2 separate regions of the Homo sapiens genome follow, and region 2 is linked to region 1. Evidence: fine-mapped expression QTL. A gene starts in region 1. The other region holds a variant in brackets. All regions are shown on one strand. Distances are between the middles of the regions. Region 1 holds the start of STAT1 (signal transducer and activator of transcription 1). Region 2 overlaps GLS (glutaminase).

Evidence for each region. PIP is the estimated chance that this variant, and not a neighbour inherited with it, causes the effect.
Region 2: its variant is the best candidate, but not a certain one, in a credible set for the expression of STAT1 in whole blood (INTERVAL, PIP 0.88).

What each region holds. Positions count from the first base shown.
Region 1 is chr2:191,011,601-191,016,984 of GRCh38, reverse strand. It overlaps STAT1 (signal transducer and activator of transcription 1), which reads left to right and starts at 2,814. Exons shown (of 25, transcript NM_007315.4): 1 at 2,814-2,967; 2 at 3,307-3,460. RefSeq lists enhancers at 1,394-1,443, 2,222-2,301, 2,332-2,531, 3,142-3,461, 4,573-4,632 and 2 more and silencers at 2,582-2,821, 2,852-3,051.
Region 2 is chr2:190,926,258-190,931,641 of GRCh38, reverse strand. GLS (glutaminase) reads right to left here. Exons shown (of 18, transcript NM_014905.5): 12 at 4,160-4,336; 13 at 1,074-1,205; 14 at 5-97. Among named protein-coding and RNA genes, the nearest start is that of GLS, 48 kb to the right of the region's middle. The variant A/G (reference allele first, on the strand shown) is at 2,479.

The DNA.
Region 1 (5,384 bases):
GACACATATATTATTTGGTCATTCAGAGACCCCAGATTAATTGCTACAGGTTGAGGTGGTTCTAGAAAGAGAATATAGTATTTGGGCTGGGCTTTAACAGGTGAATAAGAATTTGGTAAGTGAAGAGAGTGAGGAGCAAGACTTGCCATTCAGTATGTACAAAGGGGCAGAAATCAGGAAATTAAAAGCATGGGGGGAGTGCTGGAGCTAGACGAGGTTAGTTGGGAAATGCGACAATGATAGAAAAGGCTGGAAAGAAGGAAAGAAACATTTTGTGGAGGATCCAGACTAGCAGACAACATTTGTGTTTATCATATGTGCAAGGAGAGTTGTTAAGGCTTTTGAGCAGGGAATGACTATATCAATGCAGTATTTTAAGGAATTGAATTTGGCAAATATAGTGAAGGAGAAAGAGACAAGAAAAAGGTAGTATACCTAGAGATTAGCATAGCATTCCAATTCTCAAGTGATGAAGGCTTATGGTAGGTATTGCTGTGGATGCTAAAATAAAGGGGGGTAGGGAAGGAAGCATCCACAGATCTTGATGATCCAAATTGGGATTTGGAGTGCCAAATAATCCTATTTGCAGATGTTAGGATTATTCCATTCCTTCATCAATATTGAAGCTAATATCTGTGCAAGTTTTATAGTACCAGAAAAAAAATTTTTAACATGTAATCTACCCTTCCTAGAGTCAACTTTTGATATAGTTTGGCTGTGTCCCCACCCAAATCTCATCTTGAATGATAACTCCCACAATTCCCACCTGTCATGGGAGGAAACTGGTGGGAGGTGATTAAATTATGGGGGCGAGACTTTCCTGCGCTGTTTTTGTGATAGTGAATGAGTCTCGAGGATCCGATCATTTTAAAAATGGGAGTTTCCCTGCACAAGCTCTTTGCCTGCCGCCATCAATGAAAGATGTGACTTGTTCCTCCTTGCCTCCCGCCATGATTGTGAGGCCTCCCCAGCCATGTGGAACTGTAAGTCCATTAAACCTCTTTATTTTGTAAATTGCCCAGTCTCAGGTCTTTATTAGCAGCGTTAAAAATGGATTAATACAGCTTTTTTCAGAGAACAGTAAAACATTGTCTTGGTTCTTGGGTGAGTAAGAGCAGAAGGGACACTTTTGGTGCCGTGGCATCTCTTGGCAGAGAAGTCTAATTTCACTGCTAACTTGCTTTGTGAGGGTGCATTTGTGACAAGAAGAACAAATAGATGTGCAAAGAAAAAAAACTCATACACACACATATAGGCATATCCATGGGAAATTATTCAGATCCTTCTCCTACCCCAAAGTGCCTAATTATTCAAGGCTTGACTCAAATCCCGTCTACTTGAAGGAACTAATTGATTTTATGAGCATATAGTCCAAAAAGATTTAGTTTGTCTGGCTTCAGCAATGCCTACCTGGAGAAGTGACATTTAAGCTGAGATTTTTAAACTAAGATCTAAAAGATGAGTTAGCCAGCGAAGAGTTGGGTGAAGCAGATGTTGGCTCAAGGGGTTTTCCAAACTCAGGGTGAGAAGTCCCTGAGTTTGGAGAGTGTGGTTTATTTGAAGAACTAAATGCTGAAGTAAGCAAAGCAGAGTGGCACATTATGGGGTTGGACAAAGAGATCGGGCAACCAGGGCTTTATAGTATGTATTAAGAAACTGAATTTTATAAGAGCAAAGAAAAGCCATGGAAGGATTTTCAGGTTGGCAAATGACATGATCTGCTTTTCAATTAAAAAAAAAAACACTCAAACTCTTGTATGGAGAATGGATTAAAAGGTAGATAAGGGCTGAAGTGAGGCAGCCATTCGGGAATCTACTGCAGAAGGAGGCAGCAGAAGAGATGGAGCAGAGTAAATGAGACTTGGGAAATATTTAGGAGGAAGAATCAATTAAGATTTGAGGATCAGGTGTTGCGAGGTGAGGGAGAAGGCAATGTCAACTATGAATCCTAGGTATCTGTCATGTGCCATTTCTAGAAAAAGAGCAGGTTTGAGGAGAAAGATGTTTGGTTCTGAACATAGTTTGTAGAGCTCACTGCACATACAAGTGGAGAGGCAAGTGGGAGTTGTAGGTGTGAAGCCCAGAGGAGAGGTGTGGACGGGATAAGCATTTAAGACTCCTCCATCTAGAAGGAAACTGAAGCTGTGGGTGAGGTCATCACAGCACAGCGTTTAGGAGAAGCCCAGGTAAAGAAGCTGACGAATGTCTGGACCCTGACAACCTTAACATATAATGGTTTGATAGTGGAGGTGGAGGCAATGTAGAAAGAATGCCAGAGGCAGGAAAAAGCAAGAAGGATGTGTTATCATCATGACCAAGGAAGAAACGTGTTTCAAGAACAAAGGCGTCAACTCTGCCCCATGCTTCCGAGCTGTCAAGTAAAGTGAGAAAAACAGAAAAGCGTTCCCTGGGTTTAGCAACACGGAGGTCAGTTGCTAAAGGGAGCTTCTAGAATGACGACGTCGCCAAATCTGTCCTCTGCCTGGATTCTCGGCGATGAAACTACTACAGAGACCTCCAAGTTTGGGCTTCTGCAAACACAGCACGTCCTTCTGATCGTTCTCTAAGATATGTAAACAGAACGCCAGTTCCCAGCGTGGCAACACGGGACTGGGCTGCAGCTCACCCAGCCGGCGGCCCCCGCCGGAAGCCGGCGGAAATACCCCAGCGCGTGGGCGGAGCAGCGGCCCGCAGAGGGAGGCGGTGGCGCCCACGGAACAGCCGCGTCTAATTGGCTGAGCGCGGAGCCGCCCGGTGATTGGTGGGGGCGGAAGGGGGCCGGGCGCCAGCGCTGCCTTTTCTCCTGCCGGGTAGTTTCGCTTTCCTGCGCAGAGTCTGCGGAGGGGCTCGGCTGCACCGGGGGGATCGCGCCTGGCAGACCCCAGACCGAGCAGAGGCGACCCAGCGCGCTCGGGAGAGGCTGCACCGCCGCGCCCCCGCCTAGCCCTTCCGGATCCTGCGCGCAGAGTGAGTGGCCGTGAGGTTCCGGGTGCCGGGGGTGGGACGCGCAGGGACAGAGTCCTCGGGCCGTGCAGTTGGACGCCGGGCGAGGACGGGCCGTCTGTGCTGACCCGCGAATAGTGATCCCAGAGGAAGAACGCGTCCTGAGTATTCCAAGTGCGAGCAGTGCCACCTGTTCTCGGAGATGGCACTGCTCAGCACGATTGTCCTTGCCAGTCGTGCTCTGGCAGTGAAGAGGACTTGTGAAATATAATTTTCCTCTAGAAGGCACTGCACCTTCCCATTTACCGTCACTTTCTCCCGTTTCCACCCCTTTCCATCAGTCACGTTTTCTTCTTTTCGCAGAAAGTTTCATTTGCTGTATGCCATCCTCGAGAGCTGTCTAGGTTAACGTTCGCACTCTGTGTATATAACCTCGACAGTCTTGGCACCTAACGTGCTGTGCGTAGCTGCTCCTTTGGTTGAATCCCCAGGCCCTTGTTGGGGCACAAGGTGGCAGGTCAGTAAATGTTCATGGAATCAGATGAATGAGTACATGACTTCGGAATCTTAATTATGTTTCTATGTTCAAAGATGGAAGGGCTTAATGTCTTCCTAGAGTTTAAAAGTGATGTTTAGTTTTTGCAGACCCCCCACCCCAAAATAATATAGTCTTAAAAAAATTTCTGGCCGGTACTGAAGAGTTCTGTGGTAGGTATGCAGAGGTGTGGTTGATTGTGCTTTGAATGTTGTTTGTATAGATAAGGAGTTATTTTCATAGAACAGAAACAGGACTTGAGCCTCCAGCACAGTCCATTGTGCAACCATTGCTTAATGAGGATGCTGGACTCACACTTGTGAGATCATAATATGGTTTGCTTTTTACTTTCTAATTCCGTCTGAAATATACATAATTTCAATTCAACAAACTGTTTCGAGCACATAGTATATGCAGGGCACTGTCCAAGGTCCATAAGATGTTAAAAAGCAAAATACCCCACTACTCTACCCCCTCCCCACCCACCTTCCCCCGCCGGGGACTCTGGAGGCATCACAGAGCTTTACAAGGAAAACTGGAACCGATGCTCTAATAGAGGTACAGAATTCAGTGAGACGCAAGTCAAAGAAAGCTTAATTGTGAGTAAGTCTCAGACAACTTTATGAAAGAAGGGGCTTTTGTACATAGCTTTGAATGCTATAGGATTTAGAGACGCAAAAATTTGTGGAGAGGCTGTTTCCAAGGGCGAGTAGCTGGAGCAAAGCAGAAATGTTGGGCACAGTTGAAAAACAGTAAATGATTTGGTGACTGGGTTGCTTTGTTGATGGATGAAGATGGGGTGGGGTGGAAATCTGCCTAGGAATGGACAGATCATAGGATTTTTGCACAGGAGATTGATGTGGTCCAATCTGTGGGCAGCAGAGGCTGGACTGGGAAGGTAGAATGTTGGAGACAGGAAGGAGCAGGTCTTGGGATGGAGTGGAAGGAATCAACCCTAAATCTGAGATTTGAGCTCAGTGACTGGGAGATGGCCATGCCACTCCCTGAGTTGGTAACAGGTTTTGTGAGTAGATGAGACTGACTCCAGATTTGTGAACATGAGCTTATTTATTCATTGTTTTTTTTTTTTAGAGACAGAGTCTCTCTCTGTCTCCCAGGCTGGAGTACAGTGGCGCGATCTCAGCTCACTGCAACCTCCGCCTCCTGGGTTCAAGCAATTCCCCTGCCTCAGCCTCACGAGTAGTTGGGACTACAGGTGCACACCACCATGCCCTGCTAATTTTTTTTTGTATTTTAGTAGAGACAAGGTTTCACCATGTTGCCCAGGCTGGTCTTGAACTCCGGAGCTCAGGCAATCCGCCCACCTTGGCCTCCGAAAGTGCTGGGATTACAGGCGTGAGCCACCTGGCCAGCCCAAACATGAGCTTATTAATTCACCTCTTCTGTGCCAGGTGCTACATATGTACTAGCTCAACCAGCCTTAAGAACCAACTGTGGCAGGGTGCGGAAGCTCACGCCTGTAATCCCAGCACTTTGGGAGGCTGAGGTGGAAGGATTGCCTGAGGTCAGGTGTTTGAGACCAGCCTCAGAAACATAACGAGAGGCTGTCTCTACAGAAAATTTAAAAATTAGCCAGGCTTCTTGGCTCGTGTTTATTGTATTAGTCTGTTCTCATGCTGCTATAAAGAACTGCCCGAGACTAGGTAATTTATAAAGTGAAGAGGTTTAATTGACTCACAGTTCTGCATGGCAGAAGGCATCTCTTCACGGGGCAGCAGGAGAGAGAATAGATGCAAGCAGGGGAAATGCCAGTGGCTTATAAAACCATCAGATGTCATGAGGCTCACTCATTATCACGAGAACAGCATGGGGGAGACTGCCCCCATGATTCAGTTACCTCCACTGGTCCCGCCCTTAACACATGGGAATTATATTACAATTCGAG
Region 2 (5,384 bases), 85 kb after region 1:
TTACCCTTTGATCACCACCTTCTCTTCGAGGATCAAGTTTTTTTGCAAAGTGTCTCAAATTATCATAGTTATGGAAATTACACAGAGAAACAAGATCCTGTAAACAGTTATACAGAGCAGGTATAAGAAATTGGCTATTCATTGGTTATATATATCCATATTTTAACAAACTCTGCTTATATCGTCCAGCCTAGAAATCATCACTACATGCTAATAAAGTAGTATAATGCATCAAGAAGAGAACTAAAATCAGAGTAAGATATGGATATAAGTTTTAAGAACACTGCTTACTAACATGATCCTAGGGCTCAGCCAATCAAATCATCTTTCATCTTCTACAAAATAGGGTTTATAACCGGCCCCATGAAAGAATTCTTCTATCAAATAAGTGTAAAGCCACATTAAAATATAAATAAGTACTCTGGTTACAATCTACTATATTTTATATGCACTCCAAGGTCATACTCTAGTTTTTGTAAAATATAAAAGACTGGAAAATAAAACAATTTTAATTGAGTATGGTACTTAATATGAACTCAAGCAAGTAATCAATGTAACTAAAACTAGAAGCTCAAACATTAGCAGGAACTGGGTAACAACAAAATACAGAACTATCAAGAGCAGTAACAGTTTAAAAATGGTTTAATCTTTTTTTAATTTTCAGTGCTTATTTCCTCAAAAAAATGTTTAAAGGTAGTCAATGGATAAAGATATTTAACCATGCAGATTAAAGATATAATAAACCAAAATAATTCTTAAGATATACTGGCTTTTAAATTACTTCTCCAAGTTTAATACCTTTTGTTGAGCTTTTGAAAATTCATACTAATTATAACCATGAAAATTAAAATATTAGCATCTAACAAATATAATCTGTGGGAATAATTAAATGGGAGCTGTCTGACAGAGACAACTTGAAGCTCCTCTGGGAGTATTTCCACGGCTCCCTAGTAACTGGCACACTATAGGCGGAGGGCCAAGAGTTAATGAACTATGGAAAATGGGTTAAAAAAAAGAATCATTGGATGGCTCAACTTGTAACACCATTATTTACATTAAGAAAATATGCTTACGTGACAAAAGTGAATTCCCTTAACACTGTTGCCCATCTTATCCAGAGGAGGAGACCAGCACATCATACCCATAACATTGGGGACAACTAAAAGAATGCCCCCAGCAACTCCAGATTTTGCAGGAAGACCAACCTAAAAATAATTCAGTAAAAGAGTATTCAGGTAAACATTTTAAAATAAGAAATGTTATGTTCAACAATAGGGAAACTGGGGCTGGGCACCATGGCTCACTCCTGTAATCTCAGCACTTTGGGAGGCCAAGGCAAGCAGATCACTTGAGCCCAGGAGTTGGAGGCTAGGCTGGGTAACACAGGGAGATCTCGTCTCTACAAAAAACAGTGAGACATGGAAGTGCACACCAGTAGTCACAGCTACTCTGGAGGATGATGTGGGAGGATTACATGACCTCAGGAGGTCAAGGCTACAGTGAGCCATGATCGCACCACTGCACTCCAGCCTGGATGACAGAGCAAGATCCAGTTTCAAAAAAAAAAAAAACACAATTGGGAAATTGGTTTAAAAATTAAAAATTATCTCCTGACCTTGTGATCCGCCCGCCTCAGCCTCCCAAAGTGCACGCCTGTAGTCCCAACTACTCGGGAGGCTGAGGCAGGAGAAAGGTGAACCCGGGAGGCAGAGATTGCAATGAGCTGAGATCATGCCACTGCACTCCAGCCTGGGCAACAGAGTGAGACTCCCTCTCGAAAAAAAAAATATATATATATACATACCATAGAATTTCAACATTAAAAATATTGTAGATAAATTTTTATCAACATGTTTATAAATAAAGTTATAAGGCCGGGTGCGGTGGCTCATGCCTGTAATCCCAGCACTCTGGGAGGCCGAGGTGGGCAGATCACCTGAGGTCAGGAGTTCAAGACCACCCTGGGCAACATGGCAAAACTCCGTCTCCACAAAAAATACAAAACTTAGCCGCGTGTGGTGGCAGGCACCTGTAATCCCAGCTACTCGGGAGGCTGCGGCAGGAGAATCGCTTGAACCTGGGAGGCAGAGGTTGCAGTGAGCCAAGATCGCACCACTGCACTCCAGCCTGGGTGACGAAGCAAGACTCCATCTCAAAAAAAAAAAAATTATGAAACAGTTTGGGATAGATATGAATATAGAAAAATTGTTTAAAGATACATTCTAAGGAATTATAGCAGTTACATCTAAATTGTGAGGCTATGGATGCTTTTATTCTTCCTGACTATATTTTCTAATTGTTCTAAGATAAACGTATTGTTTTTAAATATAACAAATTATTTTTTAAAAATATTTTACAACTAGAAAACAATAAAAAGTTATATATTCTTAAAAGATTTTCTAAAATGGTAATTTAAATTACTCCTCCTCAAAAAATTTAAGTTACATTAGCAAAACTTGACAAATGATAAAAAAAAAA[A/G]TTAATGTCATTAGAGCAGTGTTCATTAATTGCTTACTAACATTCAGTCAGTCAGTACCTCTGGATAGGAGAATTGCTAGAACCCAGGCGATGGAGGTTGCAGTGAGCCGAGATCACGCCACTGCACTCCAGCCTGGGCGACACAGTGAGACTCTGTCTCAAAATAAATAAATAAATAAACAAACAAAAATAAAAGAAGTATACCAATAAAGTACTTTTACACAAAACTAAACAAAACAAGCAGACCAAAAAAAAAAAAAAAAAAAAAAAACACACCTGAATTGGATCTACAAATTTATAGGAAATACAAGGGACAATGGAACAGAGGTAATCAGCAATGTAGAGACAGTGGAAAACTGTATAGACTAAATTACCCAGTTTTTCCAACCAAAAATAACAAGAAAAAAAGAGAGACAGGTCAAAAGAAGACCAATAGATTTAAAAAAAAAAAAAAAGGAGACAAAACCCAATCATAATGTATGCACCTCATCTGTATCCTAAGTCAAACAAACTATAAAATAATATAATAGGCCAGGTGCAATGGCTCACACCTGTAATCCCAGCAATTTGGGAGGCTGAGGCAGGTGCATTATTTGAGGTCAGGAGTTCGAGAACAGCCTGGCCAACATGGCAAAACCCCATCTCTACTAAAAATACAAAAATTAGCCAGGTGCAGTGGCAGGCGCCTGTAATCCCAGCTACTCGGGAGGCTGAGGCAGGAGAATCGCTGGAACTCAGGAGGCAGAGGTTGCAGTGAGCCAAGATCGTGCCACTGCACTCCAGTCTGGGCAACAAAGTGAAACTCCGTCTCAAAAAAAAAAAAAAAGAAATAATAATTTACAAGATAATCCAGGAAATCTAAACACTAACTAAATATTTTGATATTCAATTTAATATTGATATTAATAATGATATTAAAGTTTTGATATGTAATATTTAATTTTTATATGTAAAAACTGTATTATTGTTATGTTTTGTTAAGGATCCTTATTTAGAATTACATACTGAAATATGACAAGGATAGGGGAAACAGATGCACATACAGATGAAACAAGATTAGTAATGTATTCATAATTAATGAAGCTGAGTGATGGATAACATTAAATGTATCTCTCTCTCTCTCTCGTTTTACATGTTTGAAAATTTCCAAAATAAAAAAAGCTTTTAGAAGGGCATTATGACTTGACATGAGCAGAATGAAATAAAAAAAGTCTATATACTTTACAAGTGGCAAATGCACAACAGAGCTTAAAGCAGTACATTTTTGTTAAGTTTTAACTTTAATACACTTTTAGTCCTTAAAACAGCTATGGCCGTAACCAAAGATGTGAAACGTCACATCTTTGCAATCTTTCTGAACTTAGAGAATTCTTAAGATACATAATCATAATGCTAAACATTAAAAACAAAAAGTAAAGAAAGACTGTACTAACCTTGTACACTGGATTGCCTTAAAAGCAGAAGGGATGAGGTTCTATAAATCAAACTTCCAAGTTCTTAAGAACATCTGGTAGACCTTATCTCTATTCCTTACTAATCTTGTAACAAATTAACCTTGAAAACAAGCCTCTCTCTCAAAAATTAATATACAGCTTTAGAAGCAAAGTTCAAACTGCATTTTTAAAAGAACCAGTTCAGACTAGTTTCTTGCCAGAGAAAATAAGATTAAACAATTACTTACATGGAAAGCAAACTGCCCTGAGAAGTCATACATGCCACAGGAATGCATCAAACTCAATGTATTTCGAACTGCTTCAGGGCTCAGTACTCTTTCACCAGTAATTGGGCAGAAACCACCATTAGCCAGTGTCGCAGCCATCACACTGGCTGATTCACAAGTCACTTCAATGGAGCACAGCTAACACAAAGAAAAAGCAGAATTCTCATACTACTTTTAATATTACTGTTCACTTTTAAGATAATCTATTTTATTTGGTATTTCATACAGATCTGAAATATTTCTTCCAAAGAGATTACTTTAATATAAACTTGAGGACATTCTGAAGATTTTAGTTGACCGAAGTCCTACCCACTTTTAAGATTTACCCTGATTTGGCCAAAGATACTCAGTCTTTTAATGGCAGAACTAGACTAGGAAGTGCCAGCCTCTAAACACTAAGATTTGTTATTATCCCATGTGATATTCAAATTTGCTTAAATATTAATACTTTCTGTGGAATACACAAGCATAATTACTTTTAACTCAACAGAAAAAAAAAGAGCCATGAAATATTTTTAAGATAAAGCACCATACATGAAGATTATGATAGTGTCTACATGAGAAATCACCATTTTAGAAAAAAATGCTACAGTGCCTGACATTTCACCCATAACAAAGTTCGGCATCCCCATCTATATGGTAACAGGCAAAGGAAAAAGGGGAAGAAAAATATAAAGCAGATCTGTCTCAGATGCTCTGTAAGCCTAAACCAAAATGTTATCCTTTAGACCATTTATTAATATTTATTTGATATTTACTATGGGTGCTAAGAATACCCTCTAGGATAAAATTTTTGCATTTAAATACAATCAAAATAATGAAAATAGTTCACCGTACCAAACCCAAATTTACCCATAAAATGAAAATAAATTTTTCCACATTTTATTTTTAGCTAATAGTAAGCAAAATTGGGATGAGACGGGGTCAAAAAATAAAGTGGATAGGAGAAGAATGAGTTCAACTTATAAATTTTCCTCAGCCATACTCCAAGATCTACAAGAGGCACAAAGGGGTTTGGAAATAGCAAGGAGGAAAACTAAGTACAGTGAATTAGAACATTGTGTGTTTAACTTTGACTACATTGCCTATTTATATAAAAAATCTCTTCCCTATTTCTCAAAAACGACAGAATCGACTTGCAATACTGCCCCAGATAGCAAAGATTTGTGATAAGGTCGACTTAATC